Linked DNA regions of Homo sapiens. The protein of the gene in region 7 purifies or fractionates together with the protein of the main gene of each other region. This does not show direct contact. Each region holds a gene or a part of one and is shown on either strand. Other genes may lie near its edges.

Region 1 (4,077 bases), on a different chromosome or scaffold from region 7:
GACAGAACTAAAACAATAAATGCCTTTTAAATAACAAGACTACTATTCCATATATAAGTCAATTAAATGAAGCACTCAGGTGATTTCTGGCTCTACAAATCCCTGCACTTTAACAAGCTCAAAACTGAAGATCTGATAAAACAGGTATGAAGGACCTATAAATTTCATTTTAAAAACTCCATTATCTTTAATTTATCCCTGATGCTACTGTAGTGACTTATTACACAATAATGAAAATTACTGCTATAATTGTTAAAAAATCAAGTAGCAACACAACTGAGAGACCAAGCTCAGTTATGAGGAGTAGTTGGTTAGGTAGTTTTCAAGAGCACATGCTTCAACAGCACCTTGTCGAGGTTTGACGCATTTGGCATTAACGTGAGCCACTCCAGTCTCAAGTGTAGCTTCCCCTTGGGAACCTCGTCCAGAGTGAACCACTGAAGAGAAAAAATGTTTACGTTCAGCAAAAGTTCTTCTGAATCAAAAATCCAAATTAAACCCAGTCTCTACAAATGTTCCATGCTGCTCACTAACCACGAGGCATCAACAGTTCTCAGTAACGCGAAGGCTGAGCCTCACCATATCCAGCTCTACGCTATGTGGATGCCAGTGACCTCACGTTTGGAGGCGATGGCAGCAACAGGTGTGAGCGACCATTCTAAGTGCTTTACACACACCAACCCCGTGACCCCGACAGAAACCCTAAGCAAGTACTAGTATCATTCCCACTTTACACATAAGAATTCAAATGTTTTCTAGCACTACCTAGAGACAGTAAAGTCTTCTATGAATAGACTTCTTTTTTTTGAGATAGGGGTCTTGCTGTGTTGCCCAGGCTGGGCTCAAGCGATCCTCCTGCCTCAGCCTCCCCAGCAGCTGGGACCACAGGTGTAGGCAAGCATGCTCCACCAAATGGCCTTTAACGGAATGTACAGGGTAAGAGGTAATACAACATTGATTCCAAATACTGAATTTCAGTATCAAACGATTTAATCTGTTTGTTCTAATTCATCACTCTATACTAATAAAATAGTATACAGTTGTATCAGCTTAAAAGTCACAAAATAATTAATCAAAGATGCTCCTCAAATGCTAAATGATAGAAGCCATGGGCAGGACTGTCCATCCAGTGCCTGGCACACCCAGGAAAACGAGATGTCACAGCCAATGAATGCTGAACACTCAAGGGAAGGAAACGTGTGATTACGAAAGCAGCAGAATTCAACACTTTTGTTTAATTTTGCTTCATTTATCTAAATCTTACCCTTCTTTTAGAAGCCACCACAAATGTTTCCTTTTTGATACTTTTTATTCTGATAGCAATAAAATGGTGGAAGTCGAGTCTCCTTGCCATGAGTTCCCACTGTCTCTACAGGCATCTCTCACGTGAGATGCCTCACTGGCCGCACTGTGCCTTCTCCACCATTCCCTCCAAACACCTGAAAATCTCCATCACTAGGGGGCATCTCGCACAGCCCTGCCCTTACTCCTGCAGGGGATCGCATATTTGTCTGCAATAACGTCAGTTTATGCTTCATATCCGTAAGGATTCCCAGCATATGGTAGGGACTCAACACGCACCTGAATGGACTCTTAAATTTATTTTTCATTTGCTATTTCTAAAAGGCCTAAATTCTTAGTATATGTTAAGTAAATGTTGTTCATGCCATACTAATTAGGATTCCGGCACTGTGTGATGGTGAAGGGGTGGTTCGTGGCTCCTCTGGCACAGGGCAGGGACTCAGTCAACAATTGTAAACAGACCCACACTCCAGGGAAACTTACTTCATCTAAAAGGCGCTCCTTTTCAACTTCAATGAGGTCAATCATAAGACTATAAAAATAACAATACGACAACTTTAGAACATAGAAACACATTTCTTACTGAAACAACTTTAAAACATAGAAAACACATTTCTTCCTGAAACAACCTTAAGCATTTGTCTATGAACAAGCACTCCAGAAATGCAACAAAACGCTAATAATTTATCAAGGAACAGACTATTTTTCCACAAGCTTCCTCCAGCTCACCCCCAGTGTCAGGAGAGTAAGGAAGAGTGAGGTGGAGTTTCTGTGAGCTCAGAATACTGAGTTTGGCCCAGCTGAGGTTAGAGCTGTAAAACAAAAACAAAAACAACTCATCTTCCCTACAATGTTACATGCATCAAAAAATGTTTGAAAGCATCTCAACCCTCTTATTTTACACGTCCTCTTGGAACGTCTTATTTTATACGTTCACTCACAACTCCAGTAGGGTTGTGCGTTACTGTGGATTCCTCACTCGCACAGTGAACGCTAACCTCACGTTCCCCCACCCTTGCTCCCAGGCTCTAGACCCATGCTGCATTGAGCCCGATGGACGCCCTCACTCGGTGCATCTGAGAGGAGGCCCATTCCCGTTCCCCTAAACCTCCCGTACTTCCAAGATTGGCACCACCCCCAGACGCCAGATACAACTAGATGGGATGATTATACTCCCACTTCTTCTTGTAGCCTCTTCTGCCCCCCACAATCTATGTCTACACCGCCTTCTCTCTGTCCTGGTCTATGACACACTCTCCTATTTGGTCTGCCAGTCTCTAAGCTCAGCCCCCGACAATCCAATCCACACAGTGATTTTCCTAGAATGAGCACCTGATCTATCCTGTCTGGCTTAAAATCTCTCAATTGTTCCTAGTTGTCCTGGGAAGTCTCATGAACTCTCAAGTCAGGCCACAACGTGCAAGGGCCATTCTTGATGAGGTATGAACCTCTCCAATGTATTCTATCCCTACATCTTTTTTGCCACAATTTAATTCAGTCAAATAACTTAATTAGGTTAAATTAATCAGAAATAATTGATATTAACAAATGGTGGTCAAACAATAACCATTTTAAAAGTTTATTTTTAAAGCTATACTAGTTGTTCAATTGAAGTGAACAAACCAGTATTTATTTTCCCAATGTGAATTACTATATCCTGACAAAAATTAATCCAGCAACTCAAAAAACTTAAAAAACCCATTTTTGCAATCTGGAATAGAACTGTCCACTAGAACTCAATACGGCGGCAGGTTCTGCATGTAGCTTTAAGCCTTGTAAACAAAGAGAGTGCCACTCAGATAGTTTTTAATTTATTTAACTTTAATTAACTTAAGGCTAGTGCCTGCTGTAATAGACAGCACAGATCTAGAAGACTCACTTCTCTTAAATGTGAAACTTTTAGGAATAAAAATGTTTTAAGAAATCCAAGGTGAAACAATTGTTATATCTAAGAACCATTTAATGAATAGACAACAAGTATACAAATGTATTTTAAAACATACTTTTGATTATTAAACAAAAAGACTGACCCCATGCCCTCCTCCAATAACCACAATGGGCTTTATTTACCTTCCTAAAAAGTCATCCTTGTCTGGGTCTTCATCAAAGAGCTCAATCTCTAATTCTTGTCCAGGATGTTCATACACTAAAGCCTAAAACATCAATGGTTAGTAGTTAAGTGCATTTTTACTAATATAGTCATACACTGAGTATGATATGATGATTGTAGTAAATATGACCAGGTACTTTTCTCTGGTGGTAAATCCTTATTTATTTATTTATTTATTTATTTATTTCTGGAGATGGAGTCTCGCTCTATCTCCCAGGTTGGAGTGCAGTGGCACAATCTTGGCTCACTGCAACCTCCGCCTCCTGGGTTCAAGCGATTCTCCTGCCTCAGCCTCCCAAGTAGCTGGGATTACAGGCATGTGCCACCATGCCCGGCTAATTTCTGTATTTTTAGTAGAGATGGGGTTTCACCATGTTGGCCAGGCTGGTCTCAAACTCCTGACCTTAAATGATCCACCCACCTCGGCCTCCCAAAGCGTTGGGATTACCAGTGTGAGCCACCGCACCCAGCCAGTAAATTCTTTTAGGACACTTATTTTTTTATTGTCAAGTCACACACACCTCTTGAGGACGGGAGGTCACTGAAACACCTGCCACACAGTAACAGTCTACCGTGCTTGTTTCTAGGGATCCTGGATTGCGTCTCAATAGATCAAGTTCAATCACTCCAACAAGGTCATGATACGTCACCCACAAGCTTGGTGC
Region 2 (4,539 bases), on a different chromosome or scaffold from region 7:
AAGAAAAACAGAAAACAAGCAAAACCCTCCAAATTTTTCATAATTGTTAGTGCCTATATAGAATATAATACACAAAACCATTTAGCAGGTGCATGCAAGAGGCGAAAGGCCAGGGGATGCAGAGGCTTCTGGTCGGCCCTGAAGTGTGGGGCCCAACATGCCCTGGGGTCTGCAGACGAACTCGGACCAGGAGCTCTAGTCTGCCGCTGCCTCAGCGTGGGGGCACGGCTGAGGCTGGGAGGACCCTTAGCCTCGATCACTGGTGGCCCTGGTGGAGCCCGGGCTGCAGGGGCCCCGGGGTTGGCAGCGGCGGCTGCAGAGGAGGCAGCGTCATCGGCGGCTGCTGCGGTAGCGGGGGCGGCGGTTCAGTGCCTGGTTCGCCAGCTGGCGTGCGGGCCAGCCCCAGGCTGCTGTCGTGCAGCTTGCGGACATGCTTCTTGAGGTCAAAGTTCCTGCAGAAACCCTTGCCGCACGTGGGGCAGGTGAAAGGCTTCTTGTCGTTGTGGGTGTGCATGTGGAAGGTGAGGTTGTAAACCTGGTGGAAAGCCTTGTTGCAGATATTGCACTTGAACTGCTTCTCCCCGCTGTGGGTCAACTTGTGGTTTTTGTAATTCCCTGAAACACACAAATGACAGGAATATGGTTCTGAAAAAAAAAATAGCTTAAAAAGGGAGGAGCAGACACGTGGAAGGTAGCGCCAGGCAAGCAGAAGAGCCGCCACAGGTCCCACAACAAGTGCAGGGCTACTATCTGTGCCTGCACTTGTCTCCCCAAGTTTATTTTCAAGCATCGCATCAACAGTGATGCCGTTTCCTTAAATTTTAATACACATTTATCAGTCCAATTACATACAATGAGAGCATGCAGTTAAAACATATACCCTTGTTTTATGAATCATGCTTTTCTCTAATACTAATCAGACTTCGAGTAGGGAGTTAGAATGGCAACAAAAGTGCCACATAACTACACTTTAAACATCGTCTTCTAAAACATCCCGAAAGTATTAAGTATGGCTTTTCATAAGACTAACCATGAGAGACATTTCCTGGTTTGCATACCTTTTTGATGAAACCCTTTGCCACAGAATTCACACACAAACGGTTTGTAGCCCGCGTGTATTCGGGTATGAGTGTTTAAAGTGGAACTTCTATTAAATGCTTTGCCACACTGGTTACATTTGTGAGGTTTTTCCTAAGCAGGAGAAAGGAAAAGCAGAGACATTTAGATATTTTCTAATTATGTGAAGTTCTGCAAGCTCAAAACACAGTAATGCTTAAACACTTTCAAGCAGAACAAAAGCAAACAATACATGGCATTCACCCTGTTTAGCTAGCACTTTTTAAATGAACGTTATCCTAAAGAGTAAGGTTTTATCGGCTGTTTTTCTGCAAACAGTTCGGAAGCAAACTAGGTGAAATTGAGACAGATGAACACACCTGCGTGTGAATGATCTTGTGCCTGCACAGGGTGCTTGCTTGCCTGAAACCTTTTCCGCACACTTTGCAAACGAAGGGTCTGGCTCCTGTGTGCACTGGCATGTGACGGGTTAAGTTATAGTGCGCATTAAAGACCTTAAAATTAAACACACGTAGAACAGGTTAGCCGCACAAGTAACTTTGAAATCAAACCGGGCAGAGAGAGGGTAGGAGGAAGAGAATCTTAACAAAAAGTGTATGCAAATAATTACCCCCAAAATACTAAAAAGGGAGGAAGGAAAGGAGGAGCGAGGGAGGGAAGGAAGGAAGGAAGGAAGGAAGGAAGGAAGGAAGGAAGGAAGGAAGGAAGGAAGGAAGGAAGGAGGGAGGGAAGGAAGGAGGGAAGGAGGGAGGGAGGGAGGGAAGGAAGGAAGGAAGGAAGGGAGGGAAGGAAAGGATCTCCGTTTTGCATTGTACTTGCCTTTCCACACACTTCGCAAGTGAAAACTTTGGGCTTGGCATTAGGAGAGCCTCGGCTGAAATCCGAGGTTTTGAACGCGATTTTTTCCGACAGAAGCTGGGCGCTTTCTTTCATGTAATGCTGCAGCTGAGCCTGGGACAGGTCTTTGAAAGCTACTCCAGAAGGGTATTTCTCCACCGCCGGGACCACCAGTTTATTCCTTTCGGCTAAATACGTTTTTGGCTGCGGGTGCAAAGGGGAACTGAGGAAGTAGGAGGCCACCGGGTGGATGTTCACGCCGGCTGCCGGGTGGCATGGGCCGTCACCTCGGTTCAGGTAGCACAAGGCGCCCATGGCGTGGAATGAAGAGTGGTTGACCACACGCGGCCTTACCAGCTTGTACTGCTGCAGCGGCAGCGCGTCGCGGGCCAGGTCGCCCTTGAGACTCAGTGCGCAGTTGAGCAGGTCGCTGCAGCTGAATGCGGGAGCCGAGGGCACCGCCGCGGGCGCCGCCGGGGCCTCCAGACTGGCCTTCCGCGGCTCGGAGCCCGTCACTCCTGCCTTGGGGCTCGTGTCGTAGGCCACAGGCACGAAGGGGATCATGCAGGGGATCGACGAGTTGAGATGCAGAGAGTGCTTGGGTTCCCCCTTGGGTAAGGCTCCCTGCAGGAAGTGGGGGACTGGCAGGGCCTTGGGCTCTGGGGTGCGCGCCATGATTCGTTCAATGGAGAAAGCCAAGGGTTTGGACGTGCTCATCATGTTGCCCCGAGCTGGAGCAGTCGCTAACATTTTGGTAGTCGCGTTGTGGCAGCTACTGTCCATGTCTGAGTCGCCAGCGTCCGTCAGCCGGGGCTGGGTTGCGCCGTCCGTTGCCTTGTTCCCTGCTTGTCACAGACCTGCGGAGAGGGGGACGGGCACCATCACCACCAGTAGCCTCCTCCTCCTCCTCCTCCCCAGCATCACCAGCCGAACCTGCCTGCCCAGCCCAATGGACTCCTGCCAGCCCATCGCAGAGTTCTTGGCGCACCAATGACTCGGGGACAATCACTACTTATTTCTATCAATAGAAAGTGTTGTGTCAATAACGCAGCCAAGATCTCGCCAATCGTTAACTTCCAAGAGGAGAAGGTAAACTAGATAATTGCTCAATTCGCTTCCAACAGTCAACAGGAAAACTTTTTTTTTTTTCATCTGCAGTCAGTAACTACTTTTCATTGGTGAGTGAGGTTCCCCGCCCAGAAAAGGCGGGGGCGCTTTCACCCGCTTGGCGCGCCCTCCCCTCTGCGCACACACTCTGCCGCGCACACTTCACTACCCTCCGCACCCCCCCATCCCCACCCCCCTTTTGCTTCCTCTGCCTTTCTAATTCTCAATCTGCTTAACCAGGCTTTAGAGGCCAAGCAAATCTGAGATCAATTTTCTCGTTTAGCTCTAAGTGACATCATCTAAAATCATTGTGCAAGGGCTAAATAAGGAAACGGAGTCTAATTCAGGGGCAAACGCCAGGCTATATTTATCAAACGCCAAGCTCCAGAAAGCCTCGGCTAGGAAGCCTCGGCAGTGAAATCCGAGGTTTCGCTGCTTGGTTCCACTGGGCCTGGGTGGGCCGGGCTGGGCCGGGCTGGGCCGGGTCAGATCTGTGCCACCTCCGCAGACCTATTTCTTCCTCCAGGGCTCGGGGTTGCCCGCTCCCGGAATCCCGGAGTCTCCGCGGCCCGAACCGAGTCTGGACCATTTAGAAGACGCCGGCAGGTAACTGGCCTCCCCAAACGCCCCGAAAATTAAAAGCCTTAGGAGGCTTGTTCTGTGTTTGTGGTTTTGTAAAGGCAATGCCCGCGGCAATAGGCCTGGGAAAGTCGCACTTTCATCCACAAAGTTGAGGAGTTGCAAGGAATAATTGGGTGTCACACCACAAGCAACCTTGACTCGATCGGACCCCACCCAGGATACACACAGACGCGCGCGCGCGCACGCTTCCGAGTTTCCATTGAGAGTCTGGAAAGAGCATTTCTTTCTTAAGTACCTGCGCTCAGCTAGAGCTCTCCCGGAGCATTTTAAATACTGAATGCCGAGCGGAGAAGGGAAACAGAGTGTATTAATCCCCACTCCGGTTGCCGGTGTCTGCAAGCCTCCTCTAAGCAGCGCAGGCGGCAGCCTGGATGTCTGTGCGCATCAAGGAGACTTGCCGGCGCCAGAGTTGTGTCCACAGGTGCACTTGTGCCTCCCAAAGAGCGCGCGTAGAGACCATTTCCCCTGCAACGCCCCCCAGCCGAACACCCGCCGGGTGTGGCACCTCGGCCGAAACTCCTGGGGCGGCGCGGTGGAGCGTGTGGAGGTTTCCGGGAAGACGCCTACGGCTGCGGCTCCGACTGTGCGGGCTCCCGCCGCCCAGGCAAGAGCGTCCAGGAGCGCGCTGGAAGCTGCGGCGCGCACCTTCCCCGGCGCAGTCTCTTGCCAGCCGGCGATCACGCAGAGCTGAACCCCGCAGCTAGGCGCGCAGGAAGGGCTGCACAGAGTTTGAAGACACGGCAGCTGTAAGCTGGCGTGAGGAGGCCAAAGGAGCGCGCAGAGCTGCAAGCAAAGGGCGGTGGGGCCTGGACCCTGAAGTGAGTGGCCGACCGCAGCAGCTCAAGGTGCCATCTGCCTGGTGAGTTAACCCCACGT
Region 3 (4,077 bases), about 57 Mb from region 7:
TTACAGGTGCCCACCACCATGCCTAATTTTTGTATTTTTAGTAGAGACGGGGTCACCACATTGGCCAGGCTGGTCTTGAACTCCTGACCTCAAGTTATCCACTGGCCTCGGCCTCCCAAAGTGCTGGGATTACAGGCGTGAGCCACCACACCTGTCCAGAACCAGGGGCTTTTCTGTGACCAAGGTAACCCCATATCAATTACCCTAGCCCATAGTGTCCTTGGACCTTACTGCTAGGCACTGGCTTTCAGTGTTGCTTTGTACTTCCCTGTCGTCTCCTAATGCCATTAGGCCTGGATAGGGCACCTGCCCTTTAACTTCACAGGTAGATTCCCATCAGAACTACTTTGAAGGCCAAAATGAGCTGGGTGAGAGAGCTGCTTTTTCTCCTGCTCTCCTTTCTTGTGTCCTCATTCTTCCCCACGATTTTTTTGATGTGTTCCATAATCTCCTTATTCATCTTGATTTCTATATCCACCAGGACCTGCTCTTCATAATATAAATAGAATTGTAGGAAGGGTAATGGTATTGTGTTCTTAAACATCATGATCTGCATCCAAGGGTTTTTTGTTTGTTTGAGATGGAGTCTTGCTCTAGTCTTGCTCTGTCACCCAGGCTAGAGTGCAGTGGCGCGATCTCGGCTCATTGCAACCTCTGCCTCCCGGGTTCAAGCGATTCTCCTGCCTCAGCCTCCCGAGTAGCTGGGATTACAGGCACCCGCCACTGCACCTAGCTAATTTTTGTATTTTTAGTAGAGACAGGGTTTCACCATCTTGGCCAGGCTAGTCTTGAACTCCTGACCTCGTGATCCACCCACCTCGGCTTCCCAAAGTGCTGGGATTACAGGCGTGAGCCACCGTGCCCGATCCAAGGGTTTTTTTTGTTTTTGGATTTGAGGTATGTTGAAAAATACAAATTTCCTGCCACTGTCACCCAGCTCCCCATGTGTGTTATAATTCACTCTTATGACCTTCACCAAGTCCCTGAACACTACTACATCACCCTGGTCTGGGTATTGCAGAAGGGTAAGGGCCCCTTCATAGGTGGTGGCAGTCAAACACCAAAGAGAGGTAAGAGAACAGCAGACATCACTTCTCGGCAGATTGCTTTGGGTAGCAAAGACATTTTAACAATATTAAGTCTTCAGTCCATGAACACAGCTTTCAATGGTGTTTTTTTGTTTTTTATTTTTATTTTGAGACAGGGTCATCCACTGTCGCCCAGGCTAGTGTGCAGTGGTGCGATCTTGGCTCACCGCAACCTCTGCCTCCCGGGTTTAAGCAATTCTTCCACCTCAACCTCCCAAGTAGCTGGGACTACAGGCGCATGCCACCACACCTGGCTAGTTTTTGTATTTTTGGCAGAGATGGGGTTCCACCATGTTGGCTAGGCTGGTCTTGAACTCCAGACCTCAAGTGATCCGGCCACTTTGACCTCCCAAAGTGCTGGGATTACAGGCATGAGCCACTGTGCCCAGCCTCAATGGTGTTTTTTTGAAGTTTTTATAATGCTGTTTTTTTCAAAAATAAAGATTTCACATGAGTTTAAAAAATGAATTTAACTCATTTTTAATGAATTTGTGATCTCTTATTTCACAGTATACCACCTTTAGAGATATTAATGACTTTCTTGGTTATCATTTGATATGTAAATAAACTCATATTTTAATGAAAATAATAAATTACTATTCTTGTGATCTTAGTGCTCATCAAAAGTAGAACTTAGACCATTCAGTTTACAGCTAATCTTCCAGATTGCTAAATGAAATAAAATTATTTTTCTATTTAGTAATTCATTATGAAAGATAAGGAACCTCAGTTTTCCCTTTTTCATATGCCTTATGTCTGACAACACATTTTGCACAATATTCTCTATTAGAATTTTCTTTTCTTTTGGTCTAGCTCTGTTTGGTTATCCCTCTTACTAGATGTGAGCAGCCGTAGCAATGTAGTTTTTGTCCCATTCACTCCTCTCAGGCATGAATCCACCTTGTCTAGGAGAGCTATGTTCTCAAAAGTGAAAGCAGCCTGTTTGACAAGTACTGACATTTGAAAATGCTATAAACCTCTTGTGGTGAGATACTGTTTGAATTAATCTTGATAAGTTAAATACCATGAATTTGAAGCAACCTTAAATTCCTTTGACAGATAAATGGATAAACAAAATATGGTATATACATACAATAGAATATTAAGCCTGATTTATAAAATAATCCTGTCATATGCTATAATGTGGATGAACCTAGAGGACATTATGCTAAATGAAATAAGGCAGTTATTAAAAGACAATGCTCTATGATTCCATTTGTTTGAGATATCTAAAGTAGACTCACCAAAGCAGAAAGTGGTGGTTGCCAGGGGCTGGAGTAGGGGAAAATGGGGAGTTCTTCAGTTAAGAGGCAAAAAGCAAGCTTGTTTTGCAAGATGCAAAAGTTCTAGAAACCTGTTGTACAACAGTGTGCATGTAGTTAATGCTTACTGTACTGTACATGTAAAAGTGGTTAAGGTGATAAGTTTTAAGTGTTTTTAACTACAGCTTTTTTAAAAAAAGAGCTGGGCACAGTGACTTATGCCTGTAATTCCAGCTTCTTGGGAGGCTGAGGTGGGAGTGTCCCTTGAGCCTAGGAGTTGGAGGCTACAGTGAGCTATGATCACACCACTGTACTCCAGCCTAGATGACAGAGCAAGACCATCTCTTAAAAAAAAAAAAAAAATTAAAAAAAAAAAACTGGATACGAATTACAATGGATTTAATACAAATACATTTGTTCTTTTTCTCCCTCTTTTCCCCACCCCCCAGGAGTTTTGTCAAGCGCTTCAGCAGCCTGATGCTAAAGTTTTTAAAAATTACTTAAAGGTAGGTATTTGTGAAGCTCACGTATCTTCATACAATTAGGTAATGTTTGAGAGCCAAGAGAGAATACATACCTGCAATTATAGATGTTTATGTGAAGTCCCTTTTAACTAAGCTCTTGAAAAAGAGTATAAGTTAGGTAAGCACACTGAATGTGTACACCTTTGAGTATATTGGTGAGAAAATGCCAGTTTTCTTTTACAGTTTCATGATGTAATTAAATAGAAACTAGAGGGATTAGGAGAATAAGAAATGTTCAAGAACAGTTGTCCAAATTAAGTTGAAAAGAAGGGGCTAAAAATATAAAAACAGAAGGATGAGATATTTGCTTATATCCTATTTTGAAACATTTGAACTGTAAAACAGACAAAAAGGAGAATCCTCAGATTTGGGCCATCAAGCCTCCTTTTACATTTACGAAATTACTGATTTTTTTTTTTAACTCTGTAAATCAACAAAAAGTGTCACGTGTTTATTTGGTATTCATAGTTATAATTGAGTTCATGAGATGAAACTGTCTTGGTCTTACCTAGGTAGTCATTCATTTCATACATAATGACTGCTTTTTATGTACCAAGTACTACAGTAATGGCTGCAAATACAACTATGAGTAATTTTCCCTCCCCATAAGGAGCTCATGATCTAGAAATAAAGTTACAGTGTGACAAGGTGAATTATTTTTTATTATCTTCACTCAAATAATTTGAAGACAAAGCACTGTATTAAATTCAGTAGCAGGTAACTTAGTGTATCACCTGGTTCTTTTAGCAAAGACATTCAGTAGAATTTGTAAGTCAGAGGGCTTTGCGCAGTAAATAATTTAAGTGTGCCATCCTTTGACTGTGGTTCTAACATCTTCCCTTGTCAGTTTTTTCTTAGTTGTAGTTTGTCAGCTTAAACATCTCAGAGTTTTTGTGGAAGAATATTGAGGGCTTGTTTTTGTTTATCATTGGGAACCCTCCCCTTCGCCATCCTCCCATAAAAAAGCAAAGTGCCTACAGGAGTAACCCCTGTTAAATAACTGATCAGTCAAACTGAATTTAAGGACTCAGTCCTCACTATCTGTTAGAGGTGTCTGTAACAGTAGATCTAGGTACCCTATAGAAGGCTTGTTCTCCAGATGTGGTTATTTATCTGCATAGCATTTATAAAAAGTCTTCCTTCTGGGCCCAACTTCTCTTCAGTGATGACATTATCTTAGTGATCATAATTCTCAGTGTTAGC
Region 4 (4,077 bases), 1.1 Mb from region 7:
TGTGGCGCGACCTCTGCTCACTGCAACCTCCGCCTCCCGGGTTCAAGTGATTCTCCTGCCTCAGCCTCCCAAGTAGCTGGGATTACAGGCACCTGCTACCACGCCCAGCTAATATTTGTATTTTTAGTAGAGATGGGGTTTCACCATGTTGGCCAGTCTGGTCTTGAACTCCTGATCTCAGGTTATCCGCCTGCCTTGGCCTCCCAAAGTGCTGGGATTACAGGCGTCAGCCACCATGCCCAGCCTAGAGGTCATGTTTTTGATGTCCTCTTGGAATATTCGCAACAAGGTGTTTTCACTTTATTAAGCTTCCTTGGATTCAGTGTTTTCTTTGAACCTCTTTTTTGCTGAAAATCTGTTGAGGGTCTGGGGAACACATTTTGGGAAATGCTGAGCATATCTGATTATCCTGATCTGCACCATAACCAAGGGATAGCTCTATGACTTATTAGAGTAAGACCATTTTGCCTTCACTCAATAAATTCTAGTTTTTTGTTTTTTTTTTTTTTCATTTCTTTTGGTATGTTTGTTTTTACCGTATAGCATTGGCTCTCAAAGTGTGGTCCCTGGACAGGCAGCATCAGCATCATCTTGGAACTTGTTAGAGATAAAAATTCTCAGCTCCATTGGAGCAACTCAAATCGGAAATCCTGGAGGTGCTGTAGCCCCAGCTACTTGGGAGGTTGAGAGGTGGGAGGATCGCTTGAGCCCAGGAGGTTGAGGCTGCAGTGGTCCATGATTGTGCTACTGCTTTCCAGCCTGGGTGACAGAGTGAGACCCTGTGTCAAAAAAAAAAGTTTGGGCACAGAACCCAGCATTTGTGTTTTAACGAGTCCTTTAGGTGATTCCTATGTTTACTAAAGTTTGAAAACCATGGCCATGGCTGGGCTTGGTGGCTCACACCTGGAATCCCAGCACTTTAGGAGGCCGAGGAGGATGGATCACCTGAGGTCAGGAGTTCAAGACCAGCCTGGCCAACATGGTGAAACCCCGTGTCAACTAAAAATACAAAAAAATTAGCTGGGTGTGGTGGTGGGCACCTGTAATCCCAGCTACTTTGGGAGGCAGAGGCAGGAGAATCGCTTGAACCTGGGAGGCGGAGGTTGCAGTGAGCTGAGATTGCGCCATTGCACTCCAGCCTGGGTAACAAGAACGAAACTCTGTCTCAAAAAAAAAAAAAAAAGAAAATCATGGCCATATAGATTGGGTCTCCCTTTCTGTCCACTTTTACTTCCTATTTCTACCACTTCACCCAACTTCTCATTTGCTGCTTCTGACCTGCTTATGCCTAGTAAGATACCCAAGCTTGTAAACTTGCTATTTGTGAGCGTCTCAGAGAGTCTCTTGTGTGTTAATGCTTCAATGTATGAGTTTTATGGCATCCTCGACGGTTTTTCTGGTCACTTTCCCAGCAGAGCCCTCTAGTTAGAAAAGGCAGCCATGTGATACCGATCTTTCCAGTCACAGGCCTCTAGTGCAGCAGTCAGTGATGAAGGGCTCAGATGGGCTGTGCCACTTACAGGCTGTGTGACCTGCTTCAAGTTACTTCACCTCTCTGAGCCTGTTTCTTTGCTTTGAACATGGAGATAGCAGTAGTACTTCCCTGATAGGTTGGAGTAAATGTAACGCATTGTCTGGGTATGGTAAGCTCACAGTGTGTGTTAGCTGTTATTGTCATTGTCTTAGCCACAACCTGTTTCTGGCCCCAGTCATTCTTTTTCCCCAGTTACTGAAATAGCCCCAAATCACATGGACCAATGCAGTGGTCAGGGCCCTGGGGAAACTGCGTCCCTGTACCTCATTCATTTCTCTTCCATCATTCAGGTGCCTGAAGTGTGAGGAATGGTATGGGCCTCCTGCTCTCAGGTTCTTCCTACACCCAGTATAAGTCTGTCTTACACTGCAGGTTAAATTTCCTCCTCCTCAGAAGCTCCTCCCTTTTGTTTGCGTGCTTCACTGTGTCATGCAGCACTTGTCACAGGTTGGCTTTCCAACATTATTGAGCACTCTTTTTTTTTTTTTGAGATGGAGTCTCGCTCTGTCTCCTGGGCTGGAGTGCAGTGGCGCCATCTCTGCTCACTGCAACCTCCACTTTCTGGGTTCAAGCGATTCTCTTTGCAGCCTCAATCTCCCAGGCTTAGGTGATCCTCCCACCTTAGCCTCCTGAGTAACTGGGATTACAGACACGTGCCACCATGCCCAGGTAATTTTTGTATTTTTAGGAGAGACGGGGTTTCACCGTGTTGGCCAGGCTGGTCTTGAACTCCTGACCTGACCTCAAGTTATCCTCCCACCTTGGCCTCCCAAAGTGCTGGGATTACAGGCGTGAGCCACTGCCCCCAGCCATATTGAGCACTCTTGTTCAACCAAGAGTTGAACTCTTTCTGCCCAGAGTTAGAGTGTATCTGTTTCACTCCAGAGTTAGGGTGTATCTGTTTCACTCTGACTGGCTGGCTTGGTTTCCCATTACTTGGTTTCTTCATTTAAAAATGGGCTTAATCCGGGTGCGATGGCTCACGCCTGTAATCCTAGCACTTTGGGAGGCTGAGGCAGGTGGATCACAAGGTCACAAGTTTGAGACCAGCATGGCCAACGTGGTGAAACCCTGTCTCTACTAAAAATACAAAAATTAACTGGGCGTGGTGGTGCGCACCTTTAGTCTCAGCTACTCATGTGGCTGAGGCAGGAGAATCACTTGAACCTGGGAGGCGGAGGTTGCGGTGAGCCGAGATCGCACTACTGCACTCCAGCCGGGGCGATAGAGTGAGACTCCGTCTGAAAAATAAAAGGCGGGGGGGCCTTAATAACACTGCCCACCTTACATGGATTAAATGAGTGAATGTGTATGAATGATCTAGAGCAGGGTCTGGCATCTTGTAAGCACTAAGAGCTAGGGTGTTATTAGTCCTCTCTTCTTCTTCATGTGTTCTGAATAGGTATTATGCCTTCTTAACCCTGCACTCTACATGTATCTCCCTCTCTTTCCATTTTTCCAGAGCCTACTAATCTGATAGGCCAAGCTTATGTGTCCTTCAGACTTTCAGAAACACTCCAGTTATAGGTGTTCTTCCCTTTTCTGGTCCCTCATAGTACTTCAGTGTTGCACTGTTTTTTAAACCGTTTATTAGAATGTATGTGAAGAAAGGTACGCCTCCTAATGGAACAGCTCACTGAATCATCACATGTTAAACACCAGTATAACCAGCACCCAGATCAAGAAGTAGAACCATTCCAGCACTCCTGAACCTCCTCTTGATGGCATGTGAGGTTTCGAGGCCACTTTTATTTTCTTAGTTTCGTTCATTTAGCAAATGTCTACCCAAAGCTTTTCTGTACCAGGCATTTTCCTAGAGTCCTGTTTTGTTGTTGCTTTTTCCTCTTGGGGAGGAAGGTCTTAAATATATGGGGAGTGTCCAGTGGGCTGAGATCATGTCTGGGCAGAATACCTGACTCCAGCGGCTTACCAAGTGATTTTTATTGACCGCTGTCTGTGTAATCTCTGGTTTCAGATCTTCCAGAGGGAGCAGTGAAGGGGCTCTGCAAATTGTTCTGCTTGACTCTGCATCGATATAGGTGAGTCCCAGCCAAAGGCCCCATATGTGGAGCACTTTGTACAGAGAGGGGATTTAGAGTAGTGGTTAGAGCCCAGATTAGAGCCAGACTGCCTGGTGCCAAATCTGGGCTATGTCACATCCTAGCCATTAGATCCTGGGCAAGTTACTTAACCTCTCTGTGCCTCAGTTTCCTTGTCTGCAGAATGGGGATGGTGCCATTCTCTATCTCATGGGTGGTTGTTAGTAAGCGTGAGGTGCCTGGAACAGTTGCCTGCTGTGCCATAGTGGTCAATGTGTTTATGCTGCCATTTAGTCATGTGTGTTAAATCGTCTGGCCTACTTTGAGACCCTTATAACTGCTCCATAAATGTAGGTGCTGCCCTTACACACTCAATGGCTTATTTGCCCTTATGAGATACTTTTAGAACTCTAGGAGGAGGTGAGTTTATCTAGTTATTTCCTAATCCCTTCTCTGTTATCCACTGGAATATGGTGTGATCAGTTTCTCCTGAGAAAGACCAGT
Region 5 (4,077 bases), on a different chromosome or scaffold from region 7:
TACAATGGGTTTATTGGACATAATCCCATCCTAATTAAGGAACATCTGTAGTCTACAAAGAGATACTTGCCAGTGTTCATTTAGCTCTGCTGTACTTTAAATAAAAGATATGTGTATCTTTAGTTCAAAGCTGGTGCCTTGGAACGGTGTCAAACATGAGAAGAATGTTCCAACAGCAAGATGGAATCATTGTCTTGCAGTGTTGAAATTAGACCGGTGGTGGCCAGGCGCAGTGGCTCACGCCTGTAATCCCAGCACTTTGGGAGGCCGAGGCGGGAGGATCATGAGGTCAGGAGATTGAGACCATCCTGGCTAACACAGTGAAACCCCGTCTCTACTAAAAAAAATACAAAAAATTAGCCAGGCGTGGTGGCGGGCGCTTGTAGTCCCAGCTACTCAGGAGGCTGAGGCAGGAGAATGGCATGAGCCGGGAGGCAGAGCTTGCAGTGAGCCGAGATCGCGCTACTGCACTCCAGCCTGGTGGGCGACAGAGTGAGACTCCGTCTCAAAAAAAAAAAAAAAAAAAAAGAAAAGAAATTAGACCGGTGGTGTTTTCATCCTTTTTCCTTGAGAATAAGTTTTCTGGATTTTAGTCTATATATTGAATAAAGCCTACAGGTCAAAGAATAGTAGGGACTTCTGAAGATTCAGGAGTGGCTTTAGAGAGGTAGCAGGGACATCATGATGTTTTTCAGCTCTTTAAAAAGATAGGAGTGGGCCGGATGCTGTGGCTCACGCCTGTAATCCCAGCACTTTGGGAGGCCGAGGTGGGTGGATCACTTGAGGTCAGGAGATCGAGACCAGCCTGGCTAACACAGTGAAACCCTGTCTCTACTAAAAATACAAAAATTAGCCGGGCATGGTGGCAGATGTCTGTAATCCCAGCTACTCGGGAGGATGAGGCAGGAGAATTTCTTGAACCCGGAAGGTGGAGGTTGCAGGGAGCCAAGATCATGCCACTGCACTTCAGCCTGGGCAACAGAGTGAGACTCCATCACAAAAGAATAAAAAAAAGGCATGGACCTTAATTCATCCTAATTCAGTTTTTGTAATCATGTGCAGAAACAAGTAACATATATATAAAAAGGCAGGAGAGAATGTAAACTTGGACTTTATTTATTCACAGTCACCAAGCAGTTTGGTTGATAATGTCTCTGAAAGCATGGACAAGTGAAATATGTAAGAGCAGAGCTCTTGGGGGCCAGGTGCAGTGGCTCATGCCTGTAATCCCAGCCTTCGGGAGGCTAAGGCAGGTGGATTGCTTGAGCCTAGGAGTTTGAGACCAGCTTGACAACATGATTAGACCTCATCTCTACAAAAAATACAAGAATTAGCTGGGTGTGGTGGCACATGCCTGTAGTCTCAGCTGCTCAGGAGGCTGAGACCGGAGAATTGATTGAGCCTGGGAGTTTGAGGCTGCAGTAAGCTGTGATTACACCACTGTACTCCAGCCTGGGTGACAAAATGAGTCCCGGTCTCAAAAAAAAAAAAGAAAAAAAAACAGGAGCAGAGCTCTTGGACAAAGCCCTGCTGTGGAAAGCTTGCTTCATCTGGCTGCAGCCGCTCCACAACGCCCGTCATCTTGCTCAGGAAGCCACAGCACTACTCTAGGAAAGGGGCAGAGAGGGGCCTGGGTCTCCCACAGCTGAGAATCCTTTAAACAGTGCCTGTAGGGCCCTCTATTGTGGATTTGGTAGTTCTGCCTGCACCGAGGGAGATGCTTGCAGGTGCTTCTGAACCCTGTGTTTGGGAATTAGCTGCGCATACAATTAAGGCTTTTGGGTATAGTAAAATTTGTGTGCCTTTGACCCTGTGGTTCTGAGTCCTCGATGTTAATGACAGAGCGGACATTGCAGCCCTTCTGTCTGCCAGCCAGCACCTCATTGGAAGTGTTTCATTGAAACGTCACACCCATATGCTGAGGCTGTCCTGTTGTTATCCCATTTTATGGATGAGGGAACATTCACACTTAGAAGTTAAGTGAGTGGCCCAGGAAACTACAGTTTACCAGTACCCAAGCTGGGCTTTAAATTCTGACTGCCCCCTGCCTCCCCAAGGGGATTGTGCACAGCACAGAAGTTCACACACGATGCTTTTTAGTATCAGCTTAGGTGGAGATCTGTGTTTATGTAGAATGCTGAGGAAACCACAGGCATAGTATGATTTCACGTACGAACCTGTGCATAAAGACTTCTGGAAAGAGTCATTGCTGGGCAACGAGGCTTCACGTGATTTGTGTATTTTTGTAGTCTTCAGAATTTTTTATGATTAGCATATGTCATTCTTATTGAAGTGTGGGGTTGTTATCAAAAAGTAAATTTAGATGTGGGAGAAATTCATATGTGATTGATTTTCAAAAGATTGCTGTAAAGTTGCTGGTGAAGGATGAGTGATCAGACACCATCAGAGCTGGAGAGGCAGCAGATGGGAATTGTGTGTTCCCAGTTCCCTGAAGAGCAGCTGGAGAGAGATGCCTCTGGTGCCGCCCCAGAATACGCAATGGGCATCTCGCCACATGGGTGTTTGGGCTGGTGCATTGCTGCTGGCTGGCGCCTTCTTTTCAGGAACATTGTGGGACATGGGTATCCTCAGCCACAGTTCTGTGGACAGGAAGACCCTGGGCCTCTCTAGTTTCTTTCTTTCTTTTTTTTCTTTTTCTTTTCTTTTTCTTTTTTTTTTTTTTTTGAGATGGAGTTTCACTCTTGTCACCCAGGCTGGAGTGCAGTGGCACAATCTCAGCTCACTGCAACCTCCACCTTCTGGGTTCAAGTGATTCTCTTGGCTCAGTCTCCCTAGTAGCTGGGATTACAGGCGCCCGCCACCACGCCTGGCTAATTGTTGTACTTTTAGTAGAGACGGAGTTTCACCATGTTGACCAGGCTGGTCTCAAACTCCTGGCCTCAGGTGATCTGCCCACCTCGGCCTCCCAGAGTGCTGGGATCACAGGCATGAGCCACTGTGCCTGGCCTAGTTTCTTAATTGAAGTAAAACAGAGTAAGATGGCATGCAGGGCTAATCATTAGCCCAGCAGGTAAGCACCATGGCTCTGCAGCCAGCTGCCTCCTTAGAAAGTGGGGTGTTGCCCCATGGAAGTGGTGGCATGCTCTTCTGGTAGCATTGTTGAAATGAAAACAGGTTCAGTCCTTGATCACTAGGCTTTTTGTACCCGGGTACCTCTGGGGACTTGGCAGAGAGTTTGATCTCTCAGTGTCCAGGGGTTAACTTTCTACCTGAGAGTAGCACCCCATGCTTCTCCAGCACCTGCTCCTAACCAGGAAATTGGGGTAGACCAGAACCCCAGTCTTCCCAGCAGCTCAGTGTTTCTTGCCCCGGAGCATCTGCCTTCATCACAGTGACTCTGAACACGCTGCCATGGTGACATCTGGTAAACCTTAGGATGGCCATGGAAAACGACTCTTTGCCCTGTTTCTTCTTGGCTTCCCTTGCGTACAAGGATGAAGGAGGTGGTTTAACTTTATTTTTGTCCTTTACTTTTTAAGTCTAAAGTAAGTGCTTGAATCGGGTGGGTTTTCATTTTTTTGCTTTCTCACCCCTCAGGTTGGCCCCTAACTTGGCCTCTCACCCTCGTGTCAGCTGTTAGACACTGACTCAGTGGCTCAGAATATGAAAGGCTCAGGAAGTAGCATGCTGGCCCCACCTCCCTGTCCCCATACCTTAGCAGAGCAGCTGCCCAGCAGGGCCTCCTTCTCTTTCCTAAGAGTTTACTCCATCCATGGTGGGTGTCTTGGTAGGCCCGAGATACGAGAGGGAGTGCTGCTGTTACAAGAATTTACAGTTGTTCTCTTCAGCACAGAAATGCTGTAAATGGCCTCTTTCGATACTAGTTTATGAAATTATAAGTGTCTGATGATTGTGCATCTTTGGTTTCAACAGCTACTCTGACCTACGACACTCTCCGGTTTGCTGAGTTTGAAGATTTTCCTGAGACCTCAGAGCCCGTTTGGATACTGGGTAGAAAATACAGCATTTTCACAGGTATCGGCCATGCTGGAGCCCACCCTGGTCTGACCGCTTGGCCTGCAGAAGCATTTTGTGATCACTGTTCTCTGCTAACTC
Region 6 (2,946 bases), on a different chromosome or scaffold from region 7:
TAGTCCCAGCTACTCAGGAGGCTGAGGCAGGAGAATCCCCTGAACCCGGGAGGCGGAGGTTGCAGTGAGCCAAGATCGCGCCATTGCACTCCAGCCCAGCCACAGGGCAAGACTCCGTCTCAAAAAACAAAACAAAACAAAATAGATTTGTTTCCCCCTGCACAATCTGGAATTACCATTTCTTCAGAGCACATACAGGCATTTCATCTTTCAACCTGTAATTTCTCCTAACTCATGTTTTCATGTAAATTAAAAACACATGCACTAACAAATAAATATACAGCATATATCAAGAACACAATATAATTTGAAAGTGTCGAAGAAAATACTTATACAAAATTTAAATAAAGAAATCATTTTGTCGAACTCTAGTCCATCTTATTGTCTAAACACATATTTGCAAAATATTTTCAAAAGATTGTATGATTATGTGCAAAGTTCTTAGTGGTCTTCATCCACTGGTTTGGTAGTTTCAGCATTTTGCTTACAACAAGTAATTCTTTATGCAATGTGAACTAATTCTGAATTGCAGTAACTAACTAGGTCATAGAAAGATATCTATGTGAAAAAAAATCACTACAATTAACCTTTAGCCTGCTAGACTTAGTTTCTTAATTAAAAAAACAGTATAGAACCTTCTATAATTAATTTTCCAACCTTTTTAAAAAAAATTACCAAACATCTTGTTGACAGAACATTTGATGTGATGGGCAGACATGCATATTGAGGATATATAGTACTCAGCAACAACTTAAGTGTTTTATCCTTACGGTCAGCTTTGGTTAAAACAGTAACATAACAAAATTAATAGAATCATGCATCGCAGGTGATAAATGATTCAAAATGACAGGAAATCAATTTAATTAAGAAATAGCAACACTTAAAAAATGCATAGGGTTGAGCACCCGTATTATTGAGGGTGGATAATTTAAATGTATAGAAGAAATCAGTTCAGAGTTTAATGATTGAATAACATTCTCTTTAGCAACTATGAGTGTGAAATTTTGGTTAATGATACCGAAAATATTAGGTTATAGGAAGTTACAGTATTACATAAGGTGAGCAAAATAATCTAATCCAATTAATATAACGCCATCTGGGGGCTTGCCAGACAGTCACAGTGGCAAACTGCTGAAATATGAAAGGCTGCATCATATGTGATACATATTCCCACTGCTAATACATGGTGCCACACAATCAGTTGTATCCTGCCATGGTCCATCTTCATATGTGGAGGGAACCTTGGCTGGATTGGACAGAATGATTGTGACCTGGGGCAGGTTCCATCCCTTGCAGTTAGACTAAGGATAAACCTGGTTATATGACAAACTAAGAATGCCAAATGTGTCCAGCTCAATTCTGAAGAGGAATTAATATACTTAAAAGGTCCATTTATAAATGAGATTCCAATGGCCACAATTTTAGAGTCTAATCTGGCTTCTTATATTTCAATCTGCTACTCTTAAACCAACAAACAGTAGTACACAGTTTTATTGGTGCAAAACTAAACAAATCCAGGAAGGTTATTCATATAAGAATCTTCAACACAAATTCTGCCTTTATTTACAAAATGGTCTGATAAAATATCGCCCCCCCCCCATACTTACAGGTCTCTTCCACAACACACTTCACACGTTGATTTTAGCAATATTAATAGCACCATTCGTATATTATTTAAAATCAAGAAGATTTCATTTCAGTTACTATGTTGATTCATCATCATTTACATCCATGGATGAGATAAGTGAGTATACTGGGACTATCTGCTGCTCCATGGTAAGGATTCCTGGGTCCAGCACAAAAGGCTTTGCAGTTACCAGTTATGAAAGGTATCTATGGTAAGTAGATACTATGAGAATTTTCGTGCCACAAAGTTTAATAATCCTCCATGTTTGTATAATGTTATTTCCACATCATCTTCAAACGAAGCAATCACGCTGAATACTTTTCCAGTGCTTGTCTTGAAAGGAGCAAAAACATCTCATGTGAGCAAGTAAATCTTCCAGGTGCTACTTGATGGTTAAGACCATTTGTCTTCATATTTAATGACTATACTTGCCACAGATTCTGTCTGATTTATCTTGGTTCTAATTTCTTATATTCTGATTGCCTGAAACTTTGCTGCTGCTTGAAAAACACCTGAGATACCTGACCATGGGCTTCATAGTTAAGTAGAAAAATAGCTGCATTTAGATTTTGACTTATTAATTGGGGAAGTTATACTCACTACTCACATTCATTTTACACCAAATATTGATTGCATGTAATCAGTAACTCCTACTCTTTCCCCTTTTTTCTTAGTTGTAAAGTCTGTTTTGCTCTAACTTTGAACGCTCAACTTTGCTCTCTTTGGAGTGGTATGTATGCCTCGGTTAAAATTAGATCAGGACAGCAAAAAAATGACCACCATGAAAAGAAAGCTGACACTTGTTAAGTGGAAGTCAAGATTCCCCTTCATGTGTTCTTTTTTTCTGGTATAAGCACCCAGTTCTTTCCACTTTTCCTCAGAGAACATGAACTATTAACATAGCTAGATCTAAGTATGGAAGAGAGAGTCATCTTAAATGGCAACTTAACATTCATTAAGTGACATTAGTATATAATTTACAGCAATTGATTCTTATTCAATAATTCATAAACATTTGAGTGCATAATCATATATTTGAAAAATTTAGAGATACCTGTATATTCAATGTAATTCCAGGAGACAGTTCTTCAGGAAATGTTAAAGAAAATGTTTCTCTACCGGAGAGGCCCAAGGAATCTGCATTTTCTCCTGGAAGGAACTGAAGTGGAGCTATGCCAATTCCAATCAAATGATCTTTGTGTATTTTTTCATAACTTTCGGCCAAAACAGCTTTCACACCCTGTAATAAATGTGCATTTTATTCCCTCTAATCACTTCTGAAAGTTATTTATTGAGCATTTAAAGGGGGCAAAAATCTA
Region 7 (4,077 bases):
CCACCTCCTTTTGCTGACAGCTAATCCACCTGAAGTTTACCTTTCTCGGGAACTTGCACTGTAGCTGGGGGGCTCTTGGTCAGTCAGAAGAAAAGCACTTTTGTGGCCCGGGACCGTGAGTGCCTGATGGGGAGGTTTGAGGCTCTGTGCTGGGCGAGCAGTGTGGTCTCACTCAGGACCCTGTGTGTCCATGCAGAGAGGTGTCCACTCATCTGCTGTCAACGCCACCCTGGCTCCAGCTCTATGAAGCTGGTGTTTGGGGTCTGAGTGTCTCAGGGTGGGGGAACGGGCATCCCGTGGATCCCAAGGGTCCCTTCTCACTTCCCTTTTCCCTCCCTCTGGTGATTCCAGCAAAAAACCAACCAGGGAATGTGAGTCCCTGTCTGAGCTCAAGGTAACGCCCGCCTGCCTGTGCCGTAGCCTCTGCTGGGGCCTGAGGGGGGCGGGTGGGCAGCTGCAGAGCACGGGGGCATCCCCACCCGGGCAGATGCTCCTTCCAGCCTGGGCTGCTGTGGCCCGGCTCACCGCGGGCCTCCAGACCCAGTATTAGAATGAGGGGCCTCGGGGGCTTGGACCCAATGGTGGGTCATGCATGTGGGCTGGGGCTGCGGGTGCATGGCGCTCCAGCTGGAATGCCTGAGAATGCACCCAGGTCTGAAGATCCTGTGTGGCACCCATGTCTTCTCAGTGCACGTCAATGGTGTTGAAGCTCTGTCACAGGGCCCATGGGTGCCCCCCCGAGTCCGCATGGTCAGCACATAGGTCAGGCATGCTGCACTGTGTGGCTCTTCGCTAGGGGCTCTCCAGCCTCCACTTCTCTTTCTTTGATGTGTTTAGACCTAGAAAATAAGTCCCCTTCCTGCCTGTTGCAAAGTAACGTAAGAGTTCCCTCACCCGAGTGGATGCAGACCTTCTTGCTGTCAGCCACCCTTCCTTCATACACATAGCCAGCCCAGGTGACCAGAACCTCCCAGGACAGATGAGGCTTTGTGTCCTTATGAGACTGGGAGAACCTGCTGGGCACCCCTGCTGCAGGTGCTGTGGTGGGTGGGGACCCCACTGCCCTTCCCACTGAGCACATCATGGCTACCTGACTTGGTGGGAGCTCCAGGCAGTCACTTCTGTTTCTTAAACATAGCTTTACTGAGGTACAATTCACATACCATGTAATTCACCCACGGGAAGTGTATGATTCAGTGGTTTCTAATACAGACTTCTGCAGCCATTACCACCGTCAACTTTACGACATTTTCATCAGCCCAAGAAGACACCCTACACTCCTTAGCTGTCCCCATCCAACTCCCCCACCCCAGTAACCACTCAGAATAGGTATGGATTTGCCTATTCTGGACGTTTCGTATAAATGGCGTCATACACTACGTGGCCTTCTGTGTCTGGCTTCTTTCTCTCAGCATCATGTTTTCAAGGTTCATCCATGCTCTACATGTATTAGTGCTTCATTCCTTTTCATGGCCAAATAAGATTCCATTGTTTGGATGCACCTCACTTTGTTCATCCATTCCTCTGTGGATGGACTTGTCTCCACCTTTTGGCTATCGAATGAAGACTGATGCTATGAACATTTGTGTACAAAGTGTTAGGAGTTGGCTTACGAGATGAAATGGATTGACTAGCAGGCTGGATGCAGTGGCTCACGCCTGTAATCCCAGCACTTTGGGAGGCCGAGGCAGGTGGATCATGAGGTCAGGAGTTTGAGACCAGCCTGGCCAATATGGTGAAACCCCGTCTCTACTAAAAATACAAATATTAGCCGGGCATGGTGGCGCACACTTGTAGTCCCAGCTACTCGGGAGGTGAGGCAGGAGAATCACTTGAACCCAGGAGGTGGAGGTTGCGGTGAGCTGAGATCACGTCATTGCACTCCAGCCTGGGCAACAAGAGCAAAAATCTGTCTCAAAAAAAAAGGCTGGGCGCGGTGGCTCACGCCTGTAATCCCAGCGCTTTGGGAGGCCAAGGCAGGCGAATGACGAGGTCAGGAGATCGAGACCATCCTGGCTAACACAGTGAAACCCCGTCTCTACTAAAAATACAAAAAATTAGCCGGGCGCGGTGGCGGGCGCCTGTAGTCCCAGCTACTCGGGAGGCTGAGGCAGGAGAATGGCGTGAACCCGGGAGGCGGAGCTTGCAGTGAGCCGAGATTGCGCCACAGCACTCCAGCCTGGGCGACAGAGCGAGACTCCGTCTCAAAAAAAAAAGAAAAGAAAAAGAAATGGATTGGCCACCCATCCCGTGGGAGTCAGGGCTTATATGGTAATCTAGGAGGAACACCTGTTTGGGAATTATTTATGCTTTTGAGAGAAACCTTGCCCTCCAGCATAGAGCAGGGAAAATGGCAGTCCTTCAGAACCGGTCTTCAGCAGTCTCAGAAGGCAGACACAGTCCCCAGCTTGTGCCCAGACAGACGCCTGGGCAGCCCCGCCTTGGGTGTGAGCCTCACGGATGATGGAGTGGAAACCCAGCGGGCTGGCCTTTCCTCGGCCTTCCTCCTCTCAATCTCCATTTTAGGGTTTGCCAAACCGGGGCTGCCTCCTGTCTCTGAGCAAGTCTGCTGTTGGTTTCTTTCCTATTTTCTTTCTTTCTTTCTTTCTTTCTTTTTTTTTTTTGAGACAGGGTCTTGCACTGTTGCCCAGGTTGGAGTGTTGGAGTGTAGTGGTGTGATCTCGGCTCACTGCAACCTCTGCCTCCTAGGCTCAAGCGATTCTCCTGCCTCAGCTTCCTGAGTAGCTGGGTTTACAGACATGTGCCACCATGCCCAGCTAATTTTTGTATTTTTTTAGTAGAGATGGGGGTTTCACCATGTTGGCCAGGCTGGTCTTGAACTCCTGACCTCGGGTGATCTGCCTGCCTCAGCCTCCCAAAGTACTGGGATTACAGGCATGAGCCACTGTGCCCGGCCTTCGTTTCAATGAGATCAAAATTGCAAGACACCAGCAGATGGAGACTGGCCCCAAAGGGCTATGCTGCCCCTTCCTTTCTTCACCTGGGATCCCCTGCCCTCAGCCCCCAGCAGGTAGGATGCCTTGGTCATGGGAGCTCACAGAGCTGATTCAGGCACTGGGGGTCTTGGACTGGGGGCCTGCCTGCCGTCTGCAGTAAGACCCAACCCCTACCAACAGGCAACTGCGAGGGCAGAGACTGAGGGCCTGACCTAACGTCTAGTTACAGCGCCCCCCTCCCCAGGGACCTTACCCACATTCTCCATCAGAAACATAGCAAGCCAGACATCACGCTTCCTTTCCCTTGTGTAAGGACAGTCTCCCTCCTGGACAGGAGACACGGATTGTTGTGGGGGAAGGACAGACAGTAACCCATGTGGCATGCCCAGTGACCTCCCTAAGAACAGGGGAGCTGTGTGATGGTGGTGAGGGGATAGGCTCGGGGATTCCCCTCGCACCTGTCACGCCATCCACGCTGTCACACCGGCGGCTCCAGCCTGGGCTCTTCAGGGAAACAAGGGCTCTCCTCCTCCCACTTCCAAGAGGGAAGGGGCCTCCTCTTCTGTCTGAGGTGCTCCTCCCTCAGGGCTGGCTGCAGGAGGGCTGAGGCGGGAGGATCCCTGGAGCAGTTGTCATCTGCCCTTTCTTGAGGGCCAGCTGTGTGCCAGGCCAGGCAGGGGAGGCTCTGATCACCCCCACACACAAGGAACTCAACATCTGGTGACTGAGGACAAGCGTCACAGTCCCTTCCCTGTAAGGGCTCATAGCCTAAGTGGGGGATCGAAGTACCTAAAAACCTGGTATGACAGGCGCCGTGGGGTGGGGGGTGCCTTCTACTTGGGATTTGTGCAGTGAATTTTGGTGTTACATAGTTTTGGAACTGTTGTACGGGTCCTTGCTATTTTTGGCAAATGATGCTGGTCTTTCATTTACAGAGGGGCTGCGTGCAAAGTCTCCTTTGAAAAATTTATGTGAGCAAGGAAAAGGGGAGAGGATCTCAAAGACTGGGTTACGTAGATCACGTTCCAGGGGGTGCGCGACGGCCCACTTGGGCAGGGGGCCCAGATGTGGGAGCAGCTGGCTCAGGGCCTCGCTGGCATTTCTCAGAGTCTTAATGTTG

What was found.
Region 1: the proteins of CAMKK2 (region 7) and ESYT2 purify together in Homo sapiens (affinity purification with mass spectrometry; one large-scale study listed by BioGRID and IntAct). This does not show direct contact.
Region 2: the proteins of CAMKK2 (region 7) and FEZF1 purify together in Homo sapiens (affinity purification with mass spectrometry; one large-scale study listed by BioGRID and IntAct). This does not show direct contact.
Region 3: the proteins of CAMKK2 (region 7) and XPOT purify together in Homo sapiens (affinity purification with mass spectrometry; one large-scale study listed by BioGRID and IntAct). This does not show direct contact.
Region 4: the proteins of CAMKK2 (region 7) and GCN1 purify together in Homo sapiens (affinity purification with mass spectrometry; one large-scale study listed by BioGRID and IntAct). This does not show direct contact.
Region 5: the proteins of CAMKK2 (region 7) and ATG4B purify together in Homo sapiens (affinity purification with mass spectrometry; one large-scale study listed by BioGRID and IntAct). This does not show direct contact.
Region 6: the proteins of CAMKK2 (region 7) and IREB2 purify together in Homo sapiens (affinity purification with mass spectrometry; one large-scale study listed by BioGRID and IntAct). This does not show direct contact.

Annotation. Positions count from the first base shown.
Region 1 is NC_000007.14:158,759,711-158,763,787, forward strand, and holds part of ESYT2 (extended synaptotagmin-2), read right to left. Parts: intron 3,456-4,077; coding exon 3,373-3,455; intron 1,835-3,372; coding exon 1,786-1,834; intron 438-1,785; coding exon 348-437; intron 1-347. UniProt on the Homo sapiens protein: Tethers the endoplasmic reticulum to the cell membrane and promotes the formation of appositions between the endoplasmic reticulum and the cell membrane. Binds glycerophospholipids in a barrel-like domain and may play a role in cellular lipid transport.
Region 2 is NC_000007.14:122,301,741-122,306,279, forward strand, and holds the start of FEZF1 (fez family zinc finger protein 1), read right to left. Parts: upstream 3,011-4,539; 5' UTR 2,698-3,010; coding exon 1,897-2,697; intron 1,572-1,896; coding exon 1,437-1,571; intron 1,192-1,436; coding exon 1,059-1,191; intron 616-1,058; coding exon 257-615; 3' UTR 1-256. UniProt on the Homo sapiens protein: Transcription repressor. Involved in the axonal projection and proper termination of olfactory sensory neurons (OSN). Plays a role in rostro-caudal patterning of the diencephalon and in prethalamic formation.
Region 3 is NC_000012.12:64,442,276-64,446,352, forward strand, and holds part of XPOT (exportin-T), read left to right. Parts: intron 1-2,799; coding exon 2,800-2,856; intron 2,857-4,077. UniProt on the Homo sapiens protein: Mediates the nuclear export of aminoacylated tRNAs. In the nucleus binds to tRNA and to the GTPase Ran in its active GTP-bound form. Docking of this trimeric complex to the nuclear pore complex (NPC) is mediated through binding to nucleoporins.
Region 4 is NC_000012.12:120,184,320-120,188,396, reverse strand, and holds part of GCN1 (stalled ribosome sensor GCN1), read left to right. Parts: intron 1-3,509; coding exon 3,510-3,573; intron 3,574-4,077. UniProt on the Homo sapiens protein: Ribosome collision sensor that plays a key role in the RNF14-RNF25 translation quality control pathway, a pathway that takes place when a ribosome has stalled during translation, and which promotes ubiquitination and degradation of translation factors on stalled ribosomes.
Region 5 is NC_000002.12:241,647,116-241,651,192, forward strand, and holds part of ATG4B (cysteine protease ATG4B), read left to right. Parts: intron 1-3,894; coding exon 3,895-3,996; intron 3,997-4,077. UniProt on the Homo sapiens protein: Cysteine protease that plays a key role in autophagy by mediating both proteolytic activation and delipidation of ATG8 family proteins. Required for canonical autophagy (macroautophagy), non-canonical autophagy as well as for mitophagy.
Region 6 is NC_000015.10:78,497,047-78,499,992, reverse strand, and holds part of IREB2 (iron-responsive element-binding protein 2), read right to left. Parts: intron 2,868-2,946; coding exon 2,682-2,867; intron 1,961-2,681; coding exon 1,850-1,960; 3' UTR 1-1,849. UniProt on the Homo sapiens protein: RNA-binding protein that binds to iron-responsive elements (IRES), which are stem-loop structures found in the 5'-UTR of ferritin, and delta aminolevulinic acid synthase mRNAs, and in the 3'-UTR of transferrin receptor mRNA.
Region 7 is NC_000012.12:121,240,890-121,244,966, reverse strand, and holds part of CAMKK2 (calcium/calmodulin-dependent protein kinase kinase 2), read left to right. Parts: intron 1-351; coding exon 352-394; intron 395-837; coding exon of another isoform or gene 838-843; exon of another isoform or gene 844-1,379; intron 1,380-4,077. UniProt on the Homo sapiens protein: Calcium/calmodulin-dependent protein kinase belonging to a proposed calcium-triggered signaling cascade involved in a number of cellular processes. Isoform 1, isoform 2 and isoform 3 phosphorylate CAMK1 and CAMK4. Isoform 3 phosphorylates CAMK1D.